7 linked regions of the Homo sapiens genome follow. The protein of the gene in region 7 purifies or fractionates together with the protein of the main gene of each other region. This does not show direct contact. Each region holds a gene or a part of one and is shown on either strand. Other genes may lie near its edges. The genes, in order: TRIM56, PRP4K, POLR1B, RBM28, RBM27, RBBP6 and DHX8.

Region 1 (2,987 bases), on a different chromosome or scaffold from region 7:
CCAGCATGGGCCAGATCACCTACTGGTTCCCACCCAGAAGGTGCATGCTTCTGCAATGTCCCCAAGGAATCTGTGTGGCCACCCTGGGAGCTACCTACCATTGGGTGGCTTTGATGACCTGATTTCCTTCACTATCTGGGCCTGGTTGTTAAAGGTTCCCTGTATCCAGCCGGGTGCAGTGGCTCACGCCTGTAATCCCAGCACTTTGGGAGGCTGAGGCGGGTGGATCACTTGAGGTCAGGAGTTCTAGACCAGCCTGGTCAACATGGTGAAACCCCGTCTCTACCAAAAGTACAAAAATTAGCCAGGCGTGTTGGCTTGTGCCTATAATCCCAGCTACTCAAGAGGCTGAGGCAGGAGAATTGCTTGAACCTGGGAGGTGGAGGTTGTAGTGAGCCAAGATCGTGCCACTGCACTCCAGCCTGGACGACAAGAGCGAAACTCCGTCTCAAAAAAAAAAAAAAAGGTTCCCCGTATCCATAAACCCTTCTGAGAAAAGGTTCCAATTTTTCAAAAGAACTTTATTAAGAAACAGAGGAAAGATACAAAATTCCCATCTGAGAAAGGTTCCCATTTTTCAAAAGAACTTTATTAAGAAACACAGAAAAGATACAAAATCCATAACCAAAGGAACTGAAGAGTTTACAGCACACTGGGTTTAGCCCATGGCAATGTAGAGAAATGGGCTGGGCTGGCGCTCAGTCACTAGGCACCGACGTCCTGATTCCTCGTCTTTGACCCAGTGTCCCTTGGTTGCTAAGTCAACCAGTTCTAACTTTCTCTGGAGACAAGTCAGGCTGCCCTCCCAAACCTCCTTCCTAATGTCTTTATACACAGGCCCTCTTCCATCTGGTCCCTAAGATTTCTCACCCAGCACCTCAGGTGAGATCTAGTCTGATGTTGCTGTACTTTGTATACTGCTCCAATCACAGGAGTCTGCAGTTTCTAGAAAATCTATTTTTGCTCCTGTCCTGATCCATTTCATAAACTGCATTCACAATCCAGTTGGGTAGTCTAATTTTGCTACCTTTGGTCAAGTTACCTACTTTCCCAAGTCTGCATCTGAACTTGGTCTTTCTCCTGCTAACAACGTATTCCTAGGTACTCTCTCTGGCAGTTCTCTGCCCCAGTTCATCCAAGACCTTCTCCCCAATACAGAAGTCCGCACCCCTTTCCAATCTCCCACTTAATTTATGGGATAGCCCTAGTTCTCTGCTTACCTTTCAAGGAGAGACAATCAGAGACCTTGATCTTGGCACTCGCCTGTTCAACCCTGCCCAGCTCAGGTCAGCAACCTCATCGGTTTCCTTGCAAAACTTTTGACTTCTGCCTTGGACTTTCGCCCCTTAGAATTTTATTTCTGCAGATTTAGAATATGGCATTGCTTTATAGATACCGTAATAATAAGGCTAAAATAGAAGGAGAGCTACTCCCTTTCCAAATGATATTTTCTCTAAACTCTCAAAAGATTGGGCCACTCTTGCCATTTTTCACTTTTTCTAAATGTCTACTCTTATGGGTCCTTAACTAATACGGTCTGATTCTTAGCTGGCTTTTAAGAATGGCATTACATTTCAGCAAGCTGGCCATTGGTCCCTTCTATTCCTGAAGTCACTGTTGTGACTTCAGATAAGGCTTCTTCAAGTAACTGCTGGAAAGCAAAACAAAATGGTCTCCTCTGAAGGAGAAGCTGATTTGCAGAAAGCTCTACTCGGGTGTTCCAGAGCTTTCACTCACAACACATGTACCTAACATCCTCATACACGCTTATGCTGATGGAGGGGTATCAGGTGGGTACAAGTCAGTTGAAACTTTTCCTAACCAACACCTTGTATTTGAGCTTTATGGTGTCCGAAATACTTCTCTACATTTCTCATCCAGTCCTCACAGCAGCTCTGTGAAGTGGGCATGTGGATGTCATTATCCCAATGTTACTGATGTACAAACTGAGGCTCAGAGAGGTTAAGGCACTAGACCAAGATCACACAGCTGTTTAGTGCAGAGCCAACACTCAACCCAGGTCTCTGCTCCCTCATTCTCTTCCCATTTCTTGACACCAAGAATACGAAAGAGGTTTTCTACTTCCCTCTTCCCTACCCAAACAGGATTTTCTTTTCACTGGTCCATCCACGCACAACCTAGTCAGTTCCGAACAGGAAAAGGAACAATTTATCAAGTTAATTGTCACAATCCCAGGTGTGGTGCAGTGGGCTGGGGTAAAACATTTTGCTGTATCTTTCATGATGTTCCTGATTTCTCTCTTTTTTTTTTTTCTTTTTGAGACAGGGTCTCACTCTGTTGCCCAGGCTGGAGTGCAGTGGTACGATCTCAGCTCGCTGCAACCCCTGCCTCCCGGGCTCAAGCGATTCTCCCACCTCAGCCTCCTGAGTAGCTGGGATTACAGGCATGTGCCACCACGCCTGGCTAATTTTTGTATTTTTAGTAGAGATGGGGGTTTCACCATGTTGGCTAGGCTGGTCTCGAACTCCTGACCTCAGGTCATCCACCCGCCTCAGCCTCCCTAAGTGCTGTGATTACAAGCGTGTTCCTGGTCTCTTTGTATCTGCGATATAACTGGGAACTCTGCCTTAGTCCTGAGCAGGGCTTTCTATCAGGTCCCCAGGCCACTCAGTTACGGTGTTGGAGATTTTACCTCCAAATTATGCTCAATGCAACACTTCCCATCCATGCTTCTCATTTTCCAGTGTCCTTTGCTGCTCTCGCCCCCCTCACCTCTTTACGAAGAAAACTTAATATTTCCCTCCATCTTACAATGCCCTGTGGATTCTTACAGCTTCCCGAGAAGCCACTTGGCATCCCCATCTCTAGGGCGCCTGTGGGACTATCTTCTTGCAGCCAGGTGACGTTTCATTTCTGAAGGTTTCTATTGTTTTGCCCCCTGGGTGGGCCACGTGGCTAGAATCATTTCACCAGCCAGGACCACTGCCCATGGCTCCCATGCAACTCCGGAGAGCTGCTGTTTCCAC
Region 2 (3,500 bases), on a different chromosome or scaffold from region 7:
CAGAGGTTGCAGTGAGCCGAGACCACGCCACTGCACTCCAGCCTGGCAACAGAGCAAGACCCCATCTCAAAAAATAAAATAAAATAAAATAAATAAATAAAAATAAAGAAAATAAAAATGTTCACCCTCACTAGTCACCTAAGAAATTTCGATTAAAACAATTTTTGGGTTTTTTGTTCTGTTTTTAAGAGTGACAAAATACTATATGGTATCCTGGTAATAAAGGTTTTCCTAAACTTTCCTAATACAGTTTCAGGAAAAGGGGCAGTTCACATAGTCATAGAAGTAGAAGTAGAAATTGACCTAACTTTCCTGGATGGAAATTTAGCAATAACTTTCTACAATGTAAATGTACATACTCTGAGACTTTGCAAGTCCACTTCTATGAGTCTATTCTATAAAGAAACCTCACATATAACCAAGGCACATCTTCGCATATAATAGTGAAAAACTGGAACCAACCTAAATTTTTCATCAGTTTCAATAGGAGAATGATACTATAATACATCTACACTGAAATACCAGTTGCTGTCAGGCAGAATGAAAAACAATCTATATGTTTTGTCGCAGAAATGTTTCCTGAAAAAAGCAAGCCACATGTGAATATGAATAATATGACTCCAGTTTTGTTAAAAAAAAAAATTCCCTTATATTCATGTTATTGTCTGTACAAGGAAAGACCTAAGATAAAGTAAATTTCTAAGGAGTGGTAGTGGAGAAATGAAAAGGGAGACAATTTACAGGCTTATTTGGATTTCTCTTTAATAAGTAAGTATGCATCACTTCTGTAATTTAAAAAAATATTTTTGTTTCAAATACTCAGCTCTAGTCCTTAATAAACTCCTCAGAATTTGCTCTTCAAACAAAGCAAACTGAAAGACCACCAAGATAATTAAGAAGCACTTGAGATAACAGAATCAGTAAAACTAATCACTGCCTCAATCCAGGAAGCCAAAGGAAAAAGGGGCTATTTCATTACAGTGCCACTCAGAAGTAAAGAATCAAGACGCTCTTAAGACACAGCACTTGGAAATAAAATTTGAAATTTCTCTGAAAATATGATGACTTCACTTTCAGGGTGAGTTTATATTTATACCCATTCACAGAAAATATTATTATGAACACAGTAAACGGCTAGGAATTAATAACATCCTTATATAGTATAAGCCAATACTCTTTTAATAAGCAAAACCTAGCTGGCAATTTCATAATACTTAAATACTAAATACAAAAAAGACATTAAGAAATCTGTTTCTAAAGTAGTTTAAGTGGTATAAACACTCCTCCCCGCAAATACTTCCGTTCTATGATCCTACGTAAATTATATACATTCTCTGATTCTATTTCATTTATAAATTAGGTATGAGAGCCCCTTCACCTCATGAGTTAAGATAATCACATGAGGATTTATAAGAACTAAGACAATATATTATTCAAATAGTACAAAATAATTTCATATACTATTCTTCTTAAGCTTAAGAGATACTACTTTTCAACAATGAGATTATATGTATTAATACAAAATTTTCCATTTTAATTATACTTTGGGGACCAAAAAATATTGGTATTGGTTTCTATTTATACTGTTAAAATTTAAAACTCATGCAAATACAAGAGAATGAACAGAACACAATTGTTAAACTGATTACCTTTCCCCCTTTTCAAAGTTAAGAGTTTCAGCCTACACTGTTCATGAAGTAATAATCCTCTCTCTAAACGCCCCCAATGAAGATTTATCAGCCAAATTACATGGATTGAAAGGAGTGCCTTAGCAAACTAGGTATTAAATCAAGAATGTGAAAAAACCCAATTCTATCATCAAGCTCAGTATTTGTTAAACACCTATACTTAAAATACTCATCGAAAAAAGTGCAAATATTAACATGGTTAATGGATTGGGTTACTTAAAATTATGAAACTCATTACTACTTCATTTATTTTTATTTTTACTTACTACTTCATTTTTAATGGTCCACAAGTTCTAGTTTTCCGTTTAAAATCTCATGCACTGGTAAAAAGCTTTAACATTTTGTACACAAGTTACCTTGGAGAAGAAAGTCGTCTCCTCTCTGGTTCTCGTCGTTTTCTTTCTAAGGATCGGCTCTTGGCTCTTCTCCCAGGAGACAGTGTCCGCGAGGGGGATTTGCTCTGCTTAGATCTTCTATCATTCAAAAGTGGAGACCTGCTTCTTCTTGATTTATCACGTGGTTTTGGAGACAAACTTCTTCTTTTAGGACTACGACCAGGTCTTCTGCTGGGTGACCTATTTTCTTTCCCAGATGAAGCATCTTTAGAGGGAGATTTAATTGGCTTCTTTTCTTTATCAGTTTCAGACCGTTTTGATTTTCTCTCTTTGGACCGTGACCTTCTGTCTTTGGATTTACCTCTTAAATCAACTGGGGATCTGGATTTTTTACCTCGATCGCGACTTCTACTTTCATTTATAATTGGGGATTTTTTCCTATCTTTTGATTTACTTTTATCTTCAATTTTAACCTTATCATCAGTAGGAGATCTGGCCTTACCAATTTTCTCTTGAGATCGCCTTCTAAGGGTAGGGGATTTTGATTTCCTTGCTTGATCTTGAGACTTACTTCTTTTGGATGGGCTTTTAGATTTTTTCCTCTCCTTTGACTTGCTCCTAGTTGTTTTCTCTTTAACGATTTCAATACCCCCCTTACTTTTCTTTTTATCAGACCTATGTCTAGTCCGTTCTTTGGATCTGCTTTTACTTCGTTTCTTTGTAGTAATTTTATTGTCCACAAGTTCAAGTTTCCCCTTTGTACTTGAAGATCTAGTACTAGACCTATTTCCATTTCTTGCCTTTTCATGAATTTCCCCCTCTTCTTCAGAGCCAGACTCATAACCTTGCAAAATGAGCCCCATACCAGACTGGACCTTTCCTTCCATTAACTCATTATCAAGTTCGGCCTTAATCAAGGCTCTCTGTTTTTCCAAGTCTTCTAGCAAAGCTAAATCATCAAGTTTAGTTCTTTTTGCTGGAGACATACCCTCTTTATCAGAAGCATCAATAATCTCTTTTCTTTTGTGTTTCTTATGTTTATGCTTATGTTTATGTTTTTTATCCTTGTCTTCTTCTGAGGAATGTTTATGTTTCTTATGTTTACTTCTGTGTTTATGCTTCTTTTTTTTGTGACGACTGTGCTTATTTTGAGACTGGTCTTCTGATACTTCTCCATTTTCTTCATTTATACTCTTTTCAGAATTAGCATCTTCCATCCTATAAATATATCAAACACATTTTAAAATCATATCATTTATCAAGTATTCAAAGAGCCATAAGAAAATAACAGTAATGAGAAAATACATCTCAATGTAATACATGAAGTCAGTCACTAAAATTTTTTCAGAACAGCTTCAGACATTTTATTTCAAAGAAGGTCTACGGCAAGAACTGAGTTGGATAGTGATACAACTTTATTGTGTTTCTAATGGTTGAACTCACCAAAAGTATTAGAGGAAATCCCTAATGGAGTGAG
Region 3 (3,500 bases), on a different chromosome or scaffold from region 7:
TTATGGTTAATCTACAATAATACAGAAAATATGGTTGCTATTTTTCAATTTTATATTGCTTATTTCAATGTAAATACAATGTGAATTTTTAACAGTCTATAATTCATCTTATGTCATGGTTATGTATCTTCTGAAGATTGTTTTTATGCTCCAAACTCAAAGGTTTAAAAGCTTTAACGTAGCTGGTAAGGAAATCAGATACTCGGCAATGAATTCTCTGAAAAAGCCCCAATTTTCCCTTGGTTTCTCTTGTTGCTGACACAGGTCACCTTAGTAACGCCTTGCTACAGAAGACTCATTTCTTTTTTCTGTTGAGACAGGGTCTTGCTCTGTCACTTAGGCTGGAGTGCACTGGCGTGATCACAGCACACTGCATCCTCCGCCGCCTGGGCTCAGGCAATCCTCTTACCTCAGCCTGCTGAGTAGCTGGGACCACAGGTGTGGCCCACCAGGCCTGGCTAAATTTTTTTAAAATTATTTGTAGAGACGAAGTTTTGTCTCTGGGCTGTTTGCCCAGATTGATCTCAAACTCCTGGGCTCAAGTGATCCTCCCACCCCGGCCTCCCAAAGTGCTGGGATTACAGGTGTGAGCCACCGCACCAGGTGTTTTTTTCTTTTTTCTTTTTGAGATAAGGTCTTGCTCTTTTGCCCAGGCTAGAGTGCAGTGGCAAAATCACCCCTTATTGCAGCCTTGACCTCCTGGGCTCAGGGATCCCACCTCAGCCTCCCAAGTGGCTGGGACCACAGTCATGTACCACCATGCCCAGCTAACAGGTTTTTTTTGGAGACAGGGTCTTGCTCTGTCGCCCAGGCTGGAGTGCAGTGGCGTGATCTCAACTCACTGTAACCTCCGTCTCCCAGGCTCATGCAACTCTCCTACCTCAGCCTCCTGAGTAGCTGGAATTGCTGCAGCATGCCAGCATGCCCAGCTAATTTTTATATTTTTTGTAGAGACAGGGTTTTGCAATGTTGCCCAGGCTAGTCTTGAACTCCTGAGATCAGAAGATCCACCCACCTTGGCATCTCAAAGTGCTGGGATTATAGGCGTGAGCCACCACACCCAGCCACTGCTAATAGTTTTTATTATTTCTGTAGCGATCTCTCTGTGCTGTCCAGGCTGGTCTCAAACTCCTTGGGCTCAAGTTACCCTTCTGCCTCAGCCTCCCAAAGTGCTGGGATTACAGGCATGAGCCACTGTACTCCTGGTCTCATTTCTTTTTCTTTTCTTTTTTTTCCTAATTAGGAATTGATGTGGAATAAAGACACATTTATAAGTGTGGAATACAATGAGCCCACCATGCTTCACTTTAAGTAGATGGGAAATGTAAATTAACCTTTACTTGAAAGGTTAATTTAATAACATTAAATTAATAAGAGAAAACTTACGCTGCCTGCTTTCAATTTTTGTCAGGAAAATTGTAGGCTGCTGAAATTTTTCAATCTAATTTTATGGACAGAGCAAACAGAAACAAAGATTATTACCTTTCGGGAAGAATGTAAATAAGAATTACTACCTAGATAAGAAATTAGAAGGCCGGGTGTGGTAGCTCACGCCTGTAATCCTAGCACTTTGGGAGGCCAAGGTGGGTGGCTCACTTGAGGTCAGGAGTTCGAGACCAGCCTGGCCAACATGGTGAAATCCCGTCTCTACTAAAAATAAAAAAATTCGCCGGGCATGGTGGCACGCGCCTGTAATCCTAGATACCCGGGAGGCTGAGGCAGGAGAATTGTTTGAACCCGGGAGGTGGAGGTTGCAGTGAGCTGAGATCGTAGCACTGCACTCCAGCCTGGGAGACAGAGCAAGACTCTGTCTCAAAATAAAATAAAATAAATTAGAAGCCAGGCACAGTGGCTCACACCTGTAATCCCAGCACTTTGGGAGGCTGAGGCAGGTGGATCACCTGAGGTCAGGAGTTCGAGACCAGCCTGGCTGAAATGGTGAAACCCCACCTCTACTAAAAATATATTAACTCTTAGATTACATCTTTTTGAGGATAAGATGCAAAATATAAAATGCCACTGAATCAATATTCTTATGAAATCATTTTTGTGCCATGCCAACTTTCTCTCTATATACATCTACAGTCAAATTTCACTACTCACAGTAGCTATGTTCTAATGAACACTGAATTAACACATATAAAACCACTACTCCTGGGGAAAAATACAGGGCTGGGTTCCTGCAAGTCTCTGGTCATAACATTCTGGTCAACGGATCAATATACAATCTTGTTTAATGTCAGCTTTTGTTGAAAGGCACCTTATTTAACATACCTTGTTAATTCATTAACACTGAACACTAGACAGCGCTTCAGTGCTATGCTTGGGGACCATTATAAACAGCAAAAACTGGCCAGGCTCAGTGGCTCATGTCTCCAATCCTATCACTTTGGGAGGCTGAAACAGGAGGATCACATGAGCCCAGGAGTTTGAGACCAGCCTGTACAACATAGTGGGACCCTGTTTCTACAAAAAAAATTAAAAATTAGCCGGGTGTGGTGGTGAATGTCTATAGTCCCAGCTGCTCAGGAGGCTGAGGTGGGAGGATTGCTTGAGCCTGGGAGGTTGAGGCTGAGACCCTGTCTCAAAAAAAAACAAAAAAGTCACCAATAAGAAGCACGACAATGTGAAAAACATAGCACCAAATGCACCTCAAAAAGGACCCTCTTTATAGTATGAGCTGAAACCGGAAAGCAGAGCATCGCCCTGCCCCGCCTCAGCTGTAACATTTGCCTCAGGAGACCCAAATTCTTCACTGCTCTGCTCATGTATGTGAATAATCATGAAAGCACTGAGCACTGACATTAGGGTTACAAATAAATTTTAGCCAGTGAGTGAATTCACAAATACAGAATCTACAAATAATGAGGATCAACCATATGTATAAATACAGGCCATTTGCTTTTTATCATTAACACTGTGACCAAGATTTGATGTGATCTTTACATAAAAATATTAAGCAAATTTCCAAACCTGGTGTAAGCCAGGATTTCTGATCCCCTTACTGCTAAATGAACAAACAAAAAAGAGACCACACAAAATGCCAAAACTAGAAACTATAAACATGCAGAAAACAGTGCTGCTGGACAAAGTCACGCCATTCCACAAGTGGTACCACTGGCCAAGGGTGGACATAGCATGCATTTACCTTCAGGAACATAAGGAAGAGCTGACCCGGTGTGAGGACTTCCTGGTTCACCAAACTATCAGGATTGTCCTCCATGCACTCTCCTTTGGCTAAAGCAAAGAGCTTTCGCGTCATGAGACAAAGCATATAAAACTTTTCAGTATTGGATTTCAAGTGGATACAGATGCACTGGCTGTGAAAACAGAAAAAAAAAAAAGCTTAAAACAATTCAGTTGGTAATACTACTTAATATTCTATTAACCAAGATCCCCAACTCATGCTTACTTAACTTTAATTAAATAAAATTAAGCATTCAGTTTTTGAGCTACACTGGCCACATTTGAAGTGCTTATCATGTGACTGGTGGCTATGC
Region 4 (3,500 bases), on a different chromosome or scaffold from region 7:
CTTTCTACATAGCCACCACACCTGGGATAAGATGGAGTAAAAAAATAAAGAATTAGAACTATGTTTCCAGTTAGACTATCAGGAATCAAAACAGGCATTCTGGAATCATCTGCACCCTACCTGGAAGCTAGGACATCTCTACGGCAATAACTTCTTTTTTTTTTTTTTGAGACACAGTCTCGCTCTGTCGCCCAGGCTGGAGTGCAGTGGTGCCATCTCAGTTCACTGCAACCTCCGCCTCCAGGTTCAAGCGATTCTCCTGCCTCAGCCTCTTGAGTAGCTGGGATTACAAGCATGCACCACCACACCTGGCTAATTTTTGTATTTTCAGTAGAGACGGGGTTTCGCCATGTTGACCAGGCTGGTCTTGAACTCCTGACCTCAGGTGATCCACCTGCCTCCTCGGCCTCCCAAAGTGCTAGGATTACAGGTGTGAGCCACCGCACCTGGCCGGCAATAACTTCTTTAGGCACAGTACTTGATAAGTCAATATATAAATCACAGTCAGTTTAATAAATAGCCCACAGATGCTGAACAGTGATATAACCAAGGAGGAATCTAGATACCAACCTGCATCTATCAGCAATTATCTCAGGGACATTTTTCACTAGGGATTTAAAAGGACACTCTCACCAGATAAAAGAAAGAATACTGGCAAGGGTTCTTTCAAGTTTAACCCCAAGATCAAGTTCTAGAGTATTTCACCTAAATAGCTACCGTATTAGCAATGAGACTCTTAATAATGCAAACATCTTTTGAAAATGCAGAAAGTGGGTTACTACACTAATTCACCAAAACACCAGAAATATCTGGGTCAATGATATGGGTATAGAAAGCTTACCTTTTATCTCTTTCATGTTCATGCCTTTGAGAGCTTTACCTGCTTCTAGGAGGTTTTTGAACTGAACAAAACCAAAACCGCGCATCTTCCCATCTGTGTGCAAATGCACAAAGAAAGAAGTGAGAGGCAGCAGGAGGTAGCCAGAATACTAAGAAGTAAATTACTGCAATTCAGGCCCACAAGATGGCCCAAATTCTGCCAGCAGGTCAGGCCCTTCCCCAAAGCAATTGCTTACATCTTCTTACTGAGTATACTCTGACTTGGACTTGGGGAGAGCAAAACACTTTCTCAAACTAACTCGCCTTCTAAAACTAATTCTGATCCAACAGAAAATATCATCAGGGGAATAAAACCATTATTTGGGTTTTCATTAGATGTGAAGCACTGTGCCAAATACTTCATATATATCATATATGTTTGTTCAAGGGTAATATGTTAACTAACGTAATCCACACCAAGTGAAGGTTTATTAGTACCTGGTTTCCTAGGGATATTTACTTCCAGGACAGCTCCAAATTGAGCAAATACTGTCTTCAAGTCATCTTCTGAACACTGAAGCCAAAAGTGAAGAAAGAAAAAGAGAAACACAATCACAGCAAATTAACATAAAACATCAACTACTAAATTCATTAATTATGAAAAACATGAATGTTTACTTTTTTTTATTTTTGATACTAGGACATCAAATGTTTCTAAATAGAAGACATTTTACTTTGTACCTAAGAGGCAAAAACACAGACGTCTGAGAACTTTTTCTACCTTTTCTTTCTCAGTAGTAGTTTCCCCAAAAAGGAAAGCAGCTTCACACTTAGTGCCCTTATTACACAGGCCCACTTTCTGAATTCAACAGGGGTAAGGTTGATTCCCAGAAGGAATTAAGCCCAATTATACCATCTTGGTGAGGAGTTCTACTAATGATCACATCTTGGCTCTAAAAGCCTTCAAAACATGCAATGTTCATTTTCTCTCTCACTTACCTTAAAGCTCAGGTTCCGAATAATTAATCTGGCTTTCTTATCTGCCACTTTGGCTTTTTTAGCCTTCGGCTCCTTCTTTGGGCACTCTGAGTTTTCTAAAAAATAAGAGGTAATGGAATAAGTACTCGAAAATCACCCACTTCTACGCCAGAACATCACAGAAAAAAAAGCTACTGGCGACAGATGGCATTTACCACAGGGTTAAGTGTGGCAATAATACCAAGGAATACCAGATTTTTCCAAAGAACTAAAATGAGTATCACAATACACTGGATGATTTTGGAGATCAAAAAGAAATGCAAAAAGCTTTAAGTTCTAGAAGCTACCTCCATGCCTCCCTCTTTCATTTTCATAGTGCTCCTCCTCACCCTGGGAGAAAAACTTCCTTCAATTACTAGAAACTCACCATTTTTCCCCTTTTCCTTTGTCTTGTTCCTCAGTTTTTTCTTGGCAACAGTCACGTTGATCTTGCAACCTTCAAAGGTGGTAATCTCCTTGAGGGCCCTCTGAACATCTTCCAGCATTGAAAAAGTGACATAGCCAAAGCCTCGACATGCCTTACTCCCTGGAATAATGGAGTGGGGAGGGAGTGGAGGGGCAGTGTGAAAAGGAGAGAGAATCATAAGCCAAGAGCACTAAATGAGTAAATCCTCAAAGCCTAAGCTAGAGGATATACTGCCAACCCATCTTGCTATCAGTTTGCCAAAAGTCTCAGGAGGGCGAGAAACAAGGGTGGTATCAGTGGTTCCCTCCCCACTTTGCTTAGAAACTGTTAGCCTTCCTCCTCTTTTAATTTAGTGTCTTTGCTGTTAGCTCCCCTTCTTCCCCCTTTCTTGATAATCCCAAGAAAACAGAGAATCCATGACATATGAGGCCCTCAAAGAACTCAACATCAAAAAGAACAAAACATCACCAAAGAAGGCAGGAAAGGTAAGTATATGCTATGGTTTGAATGTGTCCCCCAAATTTCATGTGTTGGAAACTTAATCCCCAATGTAGCAGTATTGAAAGGTGGAGTCTTTAAGAGGTGACTGGATCAGAGGACTCTGTCTTCAGGAATGGATTAATCAATTTATGGATTAATGGGTTAATAGATTAATGGGCTATCATGAGAGTGGAGCTGGGGGCTTTATAAGAAGAGGAAGAGAGACCTGAGCAAGCACATTAGCATGCTCAGCCCCCTCGCCATGACACCCTGCACTGTCTGGGCATTTTGCAGAGTCCCCACCAACAAGAAGGCTCTCACCAGATACAGCCACTAAACTTTGGACTTCTCAGCCTCCAGAACTTAAGAAATAAATTTTTCTTTACAAAGTACCTAGTTTCAGGTATTCTCTTATAAGCAACAGAAAATGAATTAAGACAGTATGGTAGCTTCAAAAATCAGAACACAATAATGCAGTTACTCCTCAAAATAGATCAGCAATAAATGCCTGAGGCCCAGACAAAAGAACCTCAAACAATAAATACTGCTCAGAGAGACTGCAGATGTTATGACCACTATTACCAACGCCTTAGCTGTCGATATCAAATTAAACCTTTCCAAAGCAGCTGTGCATTCTTGTCTCATTTTATCTTTAGAACACCTCAAAATAGGTAAAGCAAATATTATCACCCCTTCTTTCCAAGTAAGTAATTTGAGATGGAAGACAGTAAGTGAATTGGTTAATGTCACACAGGGT
Region 5 (3,500 bases), on a different chromosome or scaffold from region 7:
GGTTGCAGCGAGCCAAGATCGAGCCACTGCACTCCATCCTGGGTGACAGAGCAAGACTCTGTCTCAAAATAAATAAAATAAGATAAAATAAAATAAACTGGACTATAACTAAAAGATATGCAATATATGCAACATTTGCTCTGCTAGTACTTTTGGGCACAATATGAGAAAAGGTGGTGATTTTTACCATCATAATCTCTGCATCGCCTCTTTGGTGGTAGGTTTCGACCAAAAGAATTGGAAGAGCTATGATTGTTATAGTAATTAGACCAACTCTCAGTTGTGTTTTCAGAGTGGTGAGCAGGTGCGATCACAGTAACAGTGCTGGGAATAGACTGTGCCCCAGAGGAATACTGCTCAGAAGAGTTTGGAGGTGGTGCAGACACAGGCACATAGGAACTCTCCAGGTCATTCCTTTCACTCTTAAACTTCGATCTTTCCCTGTGCTCTACTTGGAGACAAAATTAAAAACAGAAAACAAAGAGATCAGATATTTCATGTTCTTAAACTATATTTATTTTCTCACATAGAAAACATGAGAATGTTGAATTAAACTTATCTAGCTATCCATATTTCATACTCCTCTCTTTATTAATATATCCTAAAAGCAGGGACATCAACAAGTGACATATCTTGGGCAAGAACTTGTGCAAAATCATCTTTTATAGTATCAACATCAGTTACACTTAACTGAAAAAGAGTCAGCTTCTCCACAGATATTTAATAAGAAGGTTATCTAAGAACTGACTTCCAAACTTGTATCTCAGAAGATGAGTGGTTGGGATCCCAATAATCTACTTATTTTATCCATTTAATTTTATAAACTTCAAGCACCCTTACAGCAAATCAATTACTTTTAGAAAACCAAACAAAGAAGAAAAGCAGGCAACCCTCTTCCTCACGTGATAGCTTTATTGATTAAAGGATATTTGTATCCATTATACAAAATGAGTTAAGTCTAGACATGTACAATGATACACTTGAATAGCTCCTTTTTAATCAAACTCCCTTGACTCCATCCCCAGAATAGAGCCCTGTTTTCTAACAAAATGGATATTGAGCTTCTTGAGACAATTCCAGTTTTTACACTGCTCAGACATATTAAAGGTACAACTTTAAGAGAATTTCTTGCACCCCTGTGATAGAGACAGATAAATAACTACAGAGTTTTTAGGGGGACACTCATCTACTCACCAACATTCCTATTTGGATCCCGGTCTTTGCTGCGCCCCCTACTTCGGCTTCTACTGCGACTCAGGCCTCGACTCTTACTCCGACTCTTACTCCTGCCTCTTCTCCAGTCATACTTCTCACGGTACAATTCATTCCGCTCATAGTACCGGTCATAGTCTCTCCATTTCCCGTCTTCTCTTTTTTTCTCACGTGTCCTATAATATACAGATATAAAAGCCATATGCAGGCTATAGAAACCAAGTCTGCAAACAAATCTATAGTATAAATACTACTCTTGAGTCATCCAAATGCATATCTATGCTTTTTTAGAAAGTTGCAAATCTACCACATAATTCCTCTAATCAAATATATACAGAGAAAAAACATCCCTCCTGCAATTATACTGGGTGGGGAGAAATGAAAAAAAGAGGTGAATCCAAAGTATGGGGAGGGGTGGGCAGGGGAAAACAGAAAATTTGAAATAGAAAAGAAAAAAGGCTCAAAAAAAAGTGTTCCTAAACAAAGACCAATTTTTGATGTTAGGCTGATGATTCAATATACAAGTTGTACTACTTGTCATAAAAAAATGACTTGGATGATTTTAATACTAAGCACCCCTAACCAAATGGAACATTTCATTAATATTCTCTAAGGGGACTGCTCCCACCCCTGAGCTCTTGGGGAAAACACATAATAATGACTGTTTATAAAAGGAACAGAAAGTAAGACAAAAGACAAAAAACAGAAAGAATGAAAGGAAGAAAGGTAACATCTTTCTTTAATGAGTTTACAGAGAGAGGAGTAAGTATATATATTAAAAATCCCTTTAATGTCCTTGCAAGGCAACTAAAAAGTGAGTTATCAATGTCTTCCTAATTAAAGATAAACACAAACCTTCGTTCACTAGATTCTGAACGAGTCTTCTGGGGACTAGGATATTTCTTTTTTCTGCCATCTCGTTCTTCCTCTGCTGGCTCCTGAAATACCTATATGAAAATATTGAGTAGAAGTAAGAGCAGGGCCAGGCACGGTGGCTCACACCTGTAATCCCAACATTTTACGAGGTCCAGGTGGGAAGACTGCTTGAGGCCAGGATATTGAGACCAGCCTGGGAAACACAGGGAGACTCCATCTCTACTAAAAATAATAAATAAAATAAGTTAGCTGGGCATGGTGGGATGCACCTGTATGTAGTCCCAGCTACTCAGGAGGCCAATATGGGAGGACTGCTTGAACCCAGAAGTTTGAGGCTGCATTAAGCCATGATCACACCACTGCACCACAGGCTGGATGACAGAGTGAGACCTTTCTCAAAAACAAACAAAAAACAAAATAAGAATGGTCCCTCTCGGCCGGGCGCAGTGATTCACACCTATAATCCCAGCACTTTGGGTGGCCGGGGCGGGCAGATCACTTGAGGTCAGGAGTTTGAGACCAGCATGGCCAACATGGTGAAACCCTGTCTCGACTAAAAATACAAAAATTAGCCACGTGTGGTGGCACGTGCCTGTAGTCCCAGCTACTCGGGAGGCTGAGGCAGGAGAATCATTTGAACCCAGGAGGCAGAGGTTGCAGTGAGCCGAGATCACGCCACTGCGCTCCAGCCTGGGCAACACGAGACTTTGTCTCAAAAAAAAAAAAAAAAAAAAGAAAGAATGGTCCCTCTATAAATTATGAAACATGTCCATCTACCTGATAATATTTCTGGCGCAAGAGAGGGCACGAGTAAATACACTGAAAAAATAAAGTCAATTCATAGCCAAAAGAGTCAGGCAACAGCAGAAATAAAAAAGATGCTCAGATTACTTCAACAAGCAGTTTGTTAATTTTTTAATGTTAAAGTAGGGAATGGTAGTGTAGGAAAAGTATAAACAATTCATTCTTCAAATTAAAACAGCAAATCTCTTAAGTACCATAGAGTAAAACGGTTATGTTTTCCTCATTATGAAATATATATACATACATAATTCATTTGAGTAGCTCTTCAGATTTATTCCATAGGAAACGTTTTAGGAAAAAATGGTTAAATCAATGAATGCTATAAAACTAAGTAATTCATGTAAACTATGGAAAAATGGTATTGGAACTAATGGAAATGTTAAGGCTTTCTCTTAAAGCCTAACCGTCAAAATTGACCAGAAATACAAAGAGAACAGTAATTTTTATTTTTTTATTTTATTCTTTTGTTTTTTGGAGACCGAGTCTCACTCTGTCGCCCACGTTGGAGTGCAGTGGCGCTATCTCAGCTCACAGCAACCTCTGCCTCCTGGAGAACCAGTAATTTTTATTATTGTCTTTGAACAAGTTTATCTCAAACCGAATATATA
Region 6 (3,500 bases), on a different chromosome or scaffold from region 7:
TAATTATTTTCAAACTTAAAAACAGTGGAATAGAACCAACTATTCAACTAGTGTAGCAACATTAGTACAATTTATTTGTAAAAATAACTCTACAACATAATTTTTAAGGCCATGTCTCGACTGAGATGATGCAAGTTTATAGGACCTTCTCTACACGGAAATATTGTATTTAAAAGTTCTCTTTTATGAAGTTCAGACTGATTATCACTCCACTAATTACTACCTGTTACTTCCTAAACTGTCTTTTGAAGGCACTGACAGGTTAATGCTGCTATGACCTAGCTCTCCCCAAAAGCTTACTTATTCATTTATTTTTTATTTTTTGAGACAGAGTCTCACTCTGTCGTCCAGGCTGGACTACAGTGGTGTAATCTTGGCTCACTGCAACCTCCACCTCCTGGGTTCAAGCGAATTCTCCTGCCTCAGCTTCCCAAGTAGCTGGGACTAGAGACGTGTGCCACCATGCCCAGCTAATTTTTGTATTTTTAGGAGAGACAGGGTTTCACCATGTTGGGCAGGCTGTTCTCAAACTCCTGACCTCAGGTGATCTGCACAAAGTGCTGGGGTTACAGGTGAGAGCCACCACACCTGGCCCCAAAAGTTTAAATGAAGGAAAACCAACTCCTGTAACCTCTTTTTTGAGGGAGGAAGTGGGTAAAGATCATACAAAGCAGAATAAATTCTAGTTTTAACTTCTATAATTAACAATGAAAATATCAACGCTTTCTCTCAAAAGCTTAAGTAAAAATAACAGTGTTGGCTAAGTTTCTAATTTGTGCCTCACCAAACAGAACTGGTTACTTCTGTTAAACTAGAGGTGCTTTAAATTATAAATAATTGGTACACAACAGCAACAGTAGGGGTTTAGATTTTAAGCATCTTTTCAGTGAGCCATGAATAACTATTACCTTCTTTTAAAATGTGATCCAGTAATGACATAGTAAACTTTCATAAGTTTAGCAATGAAGCACTAGAAGATATCCCGAATTTCCTTCTTTTTGGAGACAGGGTCTCACTCTGTCCCCTAGGCTAAAGTGCAGTGATGTGGTTATAGCTCACTGCAGCCTTGACTTCCTAAGCTCAAGTGATCCTCCTGCCTCAGCCTCCCAGGTAGCTGGGACCACAGGTGCATGCCACCATGTCTGGTTATTTTATTTTTTTGGTAGAGACAGAGTCTTGCTATGTTGCCCAGGCTAATCTTGAACTTCAGGCCTCAAGCAATCCTCCCCCATCAGCCTCCCAAAGCTCTAAAATTACCAGCATGAGCCATTATGCCTGGCCAAAACTCTTGTTATGAAGTTTTGGAGGCTCCTTTATCCTGGTGGTGATTATGACCTAGACTAGCAGTTCTCAACCGTTTTGGCACCAGGGAGCTGTTTTGTGGAAGACAATTTTTCCATGGACGGGGGCAGGGGGGTAAAAACTGTTCCACCTTAGATGATCAGGCATTAGATTCTCCTAAGAAGCGTGCAACCCAGATCCTTTGCACACGCAGTTCACAACAGGGTTCATGCTCCTATGAGAATCTTAATGCCACTGCTGATCTGACAAGAGGTGGAGCTCAGGTGGTAATGCTCGCTCAGCTGCTGTTCACCTCCTGCTGTGTTGCCCAGTTCCTAACAGGCCAAGGATGGATACTGGTCTGTGGCCCAGGGTTGGGGACCCCTGACCTAGACAGTAAGATTCTTACTTCTTAGATTAATATTGCTTGTACCCGCCCACTAGGGCAGGAGCCTCTAACAATCTCCTGTCTCTTCTTTTGGAAAAGAGACGGTGGGAGATGATTGGGACAGTGGGGTCTAGAAGAGAAATAGTTGCAATTCTTGTTCACAGTTGGGAGCTGAGCTTGTTAACTTTAATCTTAAATTAAACTGGTATCTTAGATATTGTCTGACCCCTGACTTTCTTCTACTTCCAAGAGGGTAAATGCAAGCCAATACTCTGCTGTTTGCTGACAGGGAGAAAGTAATCACTGGGAAGGAATATTAAAAATGTCTTAAAAACCATCATTTAAGATACTATATATAATTTATTCTTTTCTAGCCCTCTTTAAGGACAACTACCCAGGACTTAAGAGGGATAAGCACAATACAAACAAATGACCCCCTTCCTTCCTGCCACTGCTGTGCTTTAATTTCTTTGGTGAGATATATATATAAAAAATAAGATGATTATTTTCCAAGATTTTTAGCATGCCTACCTGTAGCAGCTCCTCTCCCCTCTTCTAATTTGTTGTGGTGGAGAAACCAGATAGCCAAGTTTGTTGGAACTGTGTGGGAGAAAAAAAAATAGGCTCAAGTATTTCTCCATGGGTATAATACATGACCTTTCCATGCATAGCTGTTAAGACACCAATTTTAACTACTCTGAAAACTTTTTCCTACTCCCCAGTTCTTAAATTTGTTTCGGATACAGAGCTGAGTAAATATTATATTTACTTAAAACTAACTTTCCCCCACCAATTAACTGTATCATAACAATAACTAGACCTCAAAATAGATTACTTTATGTAATATTATATTTTAATTAGCACTCTATAAATTACTCTGTGAACTTATTGTTATATACAAGGAAAAGAGCCCTTTTGTCTGCTGGGCACAATGAAGTCATTTTACATGTTAAGGTAGGTAGTGTCATTCCAAATCCAAACGAGGAAATGGATGTTAGGGAGTAAAACCACAAGACCACTGTCATGCAGCTAGGAAATGAAGGAGATGGGATTCAAACCCAAGTCTACCTGTTTCTAAATCCTATGTTCCTTCTACTGATACATCCTGCTAGTAACTCATACTTTTAAGAATATATCAATTTTCAATCGGATTATATAAACAGAAATAATTATATAACTAAAAATACATTAAGTAAGTCTGCTGATTTTTAATGCCATAAAATATCCCACAGAGAAAATCAAAGTTCTTTGTATTTTAGGGTGGCAAGAACAACTCGATTTCAGACAAAAAATTTTTGTTTGGTAGACGTTAATCTTATTATGTATTTATGTACTCAAATCAAACTTTGATCATCCAAATTAAGGGTAGAAAAAGTTAAACCTACTAGGAAAATAACTGCCACCATATTTAAAATAACTTTTCAAGTAATTCTTATCTATTCATTAAACTGAAGTCCTGTCAAGATCCCCATTTGTTGGATATGAAAGTAGAAAAAAACTTTTAAAATTTTGTATTTTAGAAAAGATTTGCTCATTTAAAAAAAACCCTCATATAAGCTTGAATTTTGACATTTTACATAAAAAATGTTAATCTGGCACATGAAAGTTTACAATAAAGAGCAGCGACCCGCTGCCTAGTTTGGACCTTCCATTATCTAGTTTGCCTAGTTTGGACCTTCCATTATCTAGTTTGCAGGCAATCATCTGAAGATTATTGTAAACATCTACTCACTGTTCCCAGCCTGGTCGACCACCACCTGGACGAGCAGTATTTATTCTTACTGGACCTAGAAACAAAAAATAAAAGCAGTAGGTAAATACAAAATTGCAC
Region 7 (3,500 bases):
GGGACTTAGTTCTCCCTCCACATTTCTTGAAAGAATGTAGCCTCTGAAGTTAGATTGCCTGGGTTTTATTCCTAGCTCCCCCCAGTTATTATTGGGTAGGTCAGTGTCTCAAACCGTCAGCTTCCTCATTGTAAAACATGACAATAATAGCACCTACTTATGAGGGTTGTTTTGGGGATCATGAAGTAACCCATAAAAAGCACTTAGCATAGTGCCTGGCACGTAGTAATGTTCAAAAAGTATTAACCATTGACATTATCGTTACTAACTTATTATGCATAAGATGTGTTCGTGTAGCCTGATGGCATTTGGCTTTCACTTTATCAGAAAGATAAAGGCACATTCCAGGATGGAAATTGTATGGTAGTACTACTTTATGAGTTAGTCATCTAGATCTTTCATGTTATTTATTCATTTACTTTTCTAGGATTAGCATTCAAATGAAAGCATTACAGTTTTTTTGTGGGTCTCATAGTATGAGGCTTATTATCTCAGTCTACTCCCGAGTAGCTAGGACTACAGATGCATACCACCACCCCCGGCTGATTTTTGTATTTTTTGTAGAGATGGTGTTTTGCCATGTTGCCCAGGCTGGTCTTTAACTCCTGGGCTCGAGCAATCTGCCCACCACAACCTCCCAAAGTGCTGGCATTACAGGCGTGAGCCACTGTCTGAAAGTAGCTTAATAAATAGCTCTAATATTAGAAGTTTCAAGAACTAGGCCGGGCACAGTGGCTCATGCCTGTAATCCCAGCACTTCGGGAGGCTGAGGCAGTAGGATTACCTGAGGTCAGGAGTTCAAGACCAGCCTGGCCAATGTGGCAAAACCCCGTCTCTACTAAAACTACAAAAATTAGCCAGGCGTGGTGGAGGGCACCTGTAATCCCAGCTACTTAGGAGGCTGAGACAAGAGAATTGCTTGAACCCGAGAGGCGGAGGTTGCAATGAGCCAAGATCGTACCACTGTACTCCAGCCTGAGAGACAGAGTGAGACTGTTAAAAAAAAATGAAAAAATAAAAAAAGTCCAGGTGCGGTGGCTCATGACTGTAATCCCAGAACTTTGGGAGGCCGAGGCAGGCAAATCACAAGGTCGTGGGTTCGAGACCAGCCTGGCCAATATGGTGAAATCCTGTCTGTACTAAAAATATAAAAATTAGCCGGTCATGGTGGCATGCGCCTGTAGCCCCAGCTACTTGGGAGGCTGAGGCAGAAGAATCGCTTAAACTCAGGGGGCAGAGGTGGCAGTGAGCCAAGATCCCGCCACTGCACTCCAGCCTGGGCGACAGAGCGAGACTCCGTCTCAAAAAAAAGAAAAAAAAAAGAAAAAAAGAAAGTTTCAAGAACTAGGCAGGTGTGCCGGGCACAGTGGCTTATGCCTGTAATCCCAGCACTTTGGGAAGCTGAGGCGGGTGGATCACAAGGTCAGGAGATCAAGACCATCCTGGCTAACATGGTGAAACCCTGTCTCTGCTAAAAATACAAAAAATTAGCCAGGCGTGGTGGTGGGCGCCTGTAGTCCCAGCTACTCGGGAGGCTGAGGCAGGAGAATGGCGTGAACCCGGGAGGTGGAGGTTGCAGTGAGCCGATATCGCACCGCTGCACTCCAGCCTGGGCGACAGAGCCAGACTCTGTCTTAAAAAAAAAAAAAAGAAGAACTAGGCAGGTTTGTGGAGAAAAATTTGGCAAAAAAGTCTTTCATCAATGTGGAGATTGCACCACCCAGCAGCTGCCTGGCCCTCATATACAGATTGGGTCTGTCCTTCTGTTGTGTGCCTCTGTGTGTCTACATGGGCTCATGCTTTTTATTGTCACCTTTACAGTCTAGTCTAGGTGGCAGCGTGCCCAGGTAGTGGTTTTGTGAGAAGAGGGTACCATGATGTGGGTCAAATAGGTCTTCCTAGTTTAAATGCACTCAAGGGCTACATTGAGCCATTTTGTAGTAATATCTTCCTTTCATTTGTATAAATTCTCTAGAATATGTGTGGATAATTTCAGCAGTCTAGATTTTCTCTCTTGTTTTCTTGTTTTGTTTTTTTTGTTTTTTTTTGAGACGGAGTCTCACTCTGTTGCCCAGGCTGGAGTGCAGTGGCGCAATGCCGGCTTACTGCAACCTCTGCCTCCCGGGTTCAAGTGATTCTCCTGCCTCAGTCTCCCAAGTAGCTGGGATTACAGGTGCCTGCCACCACACCCAGCTAATTTTTGTATTTTTAATAGAGACGGGGTTTCACTGTGTTAGCCAGGCTCATCTTGAACTCCTAACCTCAAGTGATCCGCCTGCCTTGGCCTCCCAGAGTGTTGGGATTACAGGCATGAGCCACCACACCTGGCCAGATTTTCTCTCTTTACCCTTACCAGATGGTGGTCTTTGTTTTTTATTACTGTTGGATAACCTAATTAGTTTTGTTTTCACCATACTTGAAACTGATTTCTTGTTCATGTCTCTTCTTTTCTGAATTCTGTTTCTTATTTGCAGCTGAATTTGTGATCAGTCTTGCTGAGAAAAATACCACCTTTGATACTTTTAAGGCTTCTCTCGTCAAAAATGGTGCAGAATTTACGGTATGTATATGTGGAGAAGATAATCTGTAGATATTAATGTTTTAATTTATGTTTGTTTGTTTGTTTTTTTTTTTGAGACAGAGTTTTGCTCTGTCGCCTGGGCTGGAGTGCAGTGGCGCCACCTCAGCTCACTGCAAGCTCCGCCTCCCGGGTTCACGCCATTCTCTTGCCTCAGTCTCCCAAGTAGCTGGGACTACAGGTGCCTGCCACCATGCCCGGCTAATTTTTTGTATTTTTAGTAGAGATGGGGTTTCACCGTGTTAGCCAGGATGGTCTCGATCTCCTGACCTCGTGATCCACCCGCCTCGGCCTTCCAAAGTGCTGGGATTACATAATTTATGTTTTAATGTCACTATTGATTTTAAATTTTGATAGGGTTTAATATAGGATTTTGATATAGGAAGGAGACAATTTTATACATATCAATTAAATAAGCCATTAAGTGTGTAATGTTTTCATGCCATTAAGTAGTGATGATTTAACCAGATTTTCTGTGATACCTCTAGGAAAACAGGGCAGGATTTTCATCATTAAGTCTTTGTAGGTATTTACATTCTTGTTCTGTGAGTCAGGAAGTTGGAAACAAGTTTTGGGGGTAGTTCTAAACCTTGGGAAATAAAATGGTTGCAGGGAGCCTAATAACTTTTCTCCCCAAAGAGTCCTAAATATCGGCTTTCTCTGAAGCTATTATACTAGGTTCATGCTACACCAGGTTGACACACTATGTTTCATGTATTCCAATTAGCTAAATTCAAGTGCGTAACCACCCTTCCCTACAGGACATTCTTTGCCTTTTAAGTGTATTTAAGCACTGATATGGGAGCTGACAATTTTCGTTCTATGTTTCTTTTCAAAGGATTCTCTTATTAGTAACTTGCTGCGTCTCATACAAACCATGCGGCCTCCAGCGAAGCCTTCCACTAGCAAAGGTAAGCAGAGC

The links.
Region 1: the proteins of DHX8 (region 7) and TRIM56 purify together in Homo sapiens (co-immunoprecipitation; one large-scale study listed by IntAct). This does not show direct contact.
Region 2: the proteins of DHX8 (region 7) and PRP4K purify together in Homo sapiens (co-immunoprecipitation; one large-scale study listed by IntAct). This does not show direct contact.
Region 3: the proteins of DHX8 (region 7) and POLR1B fractionate together in Homo sapiens (co-fractionation; one large-scale study listed by BioGRID). This does not show direct contact.
Region 4: the proteins of DHX8 (region 7) and RBM28 purify together in Homo sapiens (affinity purification with mass spectrometry, with the first as the bait; one large-scale study listed by BioGRID). This does not show direct contact.
Region 5: the proteins of DHX8 (region 7) and RBM27 purify together in Homo sapiens (co-immunoprecipitation; one large-scale study listed by IntAct). This does not show direct contact.
Region 6: the proteins of DHX8 (region 7) and RBBP6 purify together in Homo sapiens (co-immunoprecipitation; one large-scale study listed by IntAct). This does not show direct contact.

Annotation. Positions count from the first base shown.
Region 1 is NC_000007.14:101,095,481-101,098,467, reverse strand, and holds the end of TRIM56 (E3 ubiquitin-protein ligase TRIM56), read right to left. Parts: 3' UTR 501-2,987; downstream 1-500.
Region 2 is NC_000006.12:4,031,300-4,034,799, reverse strand, and holds part of PRP4K (serine/threonine-protein kinase PRP4 homolog), read right to left. Parts: intron 3,242-3,500; coding exon 2,045-3,241; intron 1-2,044. UniProt on the Homo sapiens protein: Serine/threonine kinase involved in spliceosomal assembly as well as mitosis and signaling regulation. Connects chromatin mediated regulation of transcription and pre-mRNA splicing.
Region 3 is NC_000002.12:112,552,465-112,555,964, reverse strand, and holds part of POLR1B (DNA-directed RNA polymerase I subunit RPA2), read right to left. Parts: intron 3,321-3,500; coding exon 3,149-3,320; intron 2,427-3,148; exon of another isoform or gene 2,275-2,426; intron 1,442-2,274; exon of another isoform or gene 1,386-1,441; intron 1-1,385. UniProt on the Homo sapiens protein: Catalytic core component of RNA polymerase I (Pol I), a DNA-dependent RNA polymerase which synthesizes ribosomal RNA precursors using the four ribonucleoside triphosphates as substrates.
Region 4 is NC_000007.14:128,337,409-128,340,908, forward strand, and holds part of RBM28 (RNA-binding protein 28), read right to left. Parts: intron 2,384-3,500; coding exon 2,225-2,383; intron 1,914-2,224; coding exon 1,819-1,913; intron 1,394-1,818; coding exon 1,318-1,393; intron 935-1,317; coding exon 842-934; intron 1-841. UniProt on the Homo sapiens protein: Nucleolar component of the spliceosomal ribonucleoprotein complexes.
Region 5 is NC_000005.10:146,227,605-146,231,104, reverse strand, and holds part of RBM27 (RNA-binding protein 27), read right to left. Parts: intron 2,160-3,500; coding exon 2,068-2,159; intron 1,389-2,067; coding exon 1,195-1,388; intron 449-1,194; coding exon 188-448; intron 1-187. Other genes in the region: RBM27-POU4F3, read right to left, coding at 188-448, 1,195-1,388, 2,068-2,159. UniProt on the Homo sapiens protein: May be involved in the turnover of nuclear polyadenylated (pA+) RNA.
Region 6 is NC_000016.10:24,563,566-24,567,065, reverse strand, and holds part of RBBP6 (E3 ubiquitin-protein ligase RBBP6), read right to left. Parts: intron 3,457-3,500; coding exon 3,402-3,456; intron 2,270-3,401; coding exon 2,201-2,269; intron 1-2,200. UniProt on the Homo sapiens protein: E3 ubiquitin-protein ligase which promotes ubiquitination of YBX1, leading to its degradation by the proteasome.
Region 7 is NC_000017.11:43,486,975-43,490,474, forward strand, and holds part of DHX8 (ATP-dependent RNA helicase DHX8), read left to right. Parts: intron 1-2,474; coding exon 2,475-2,560; intron 2,561-3,416; coding exon 3,417-3,489; intron 3,490-3,500.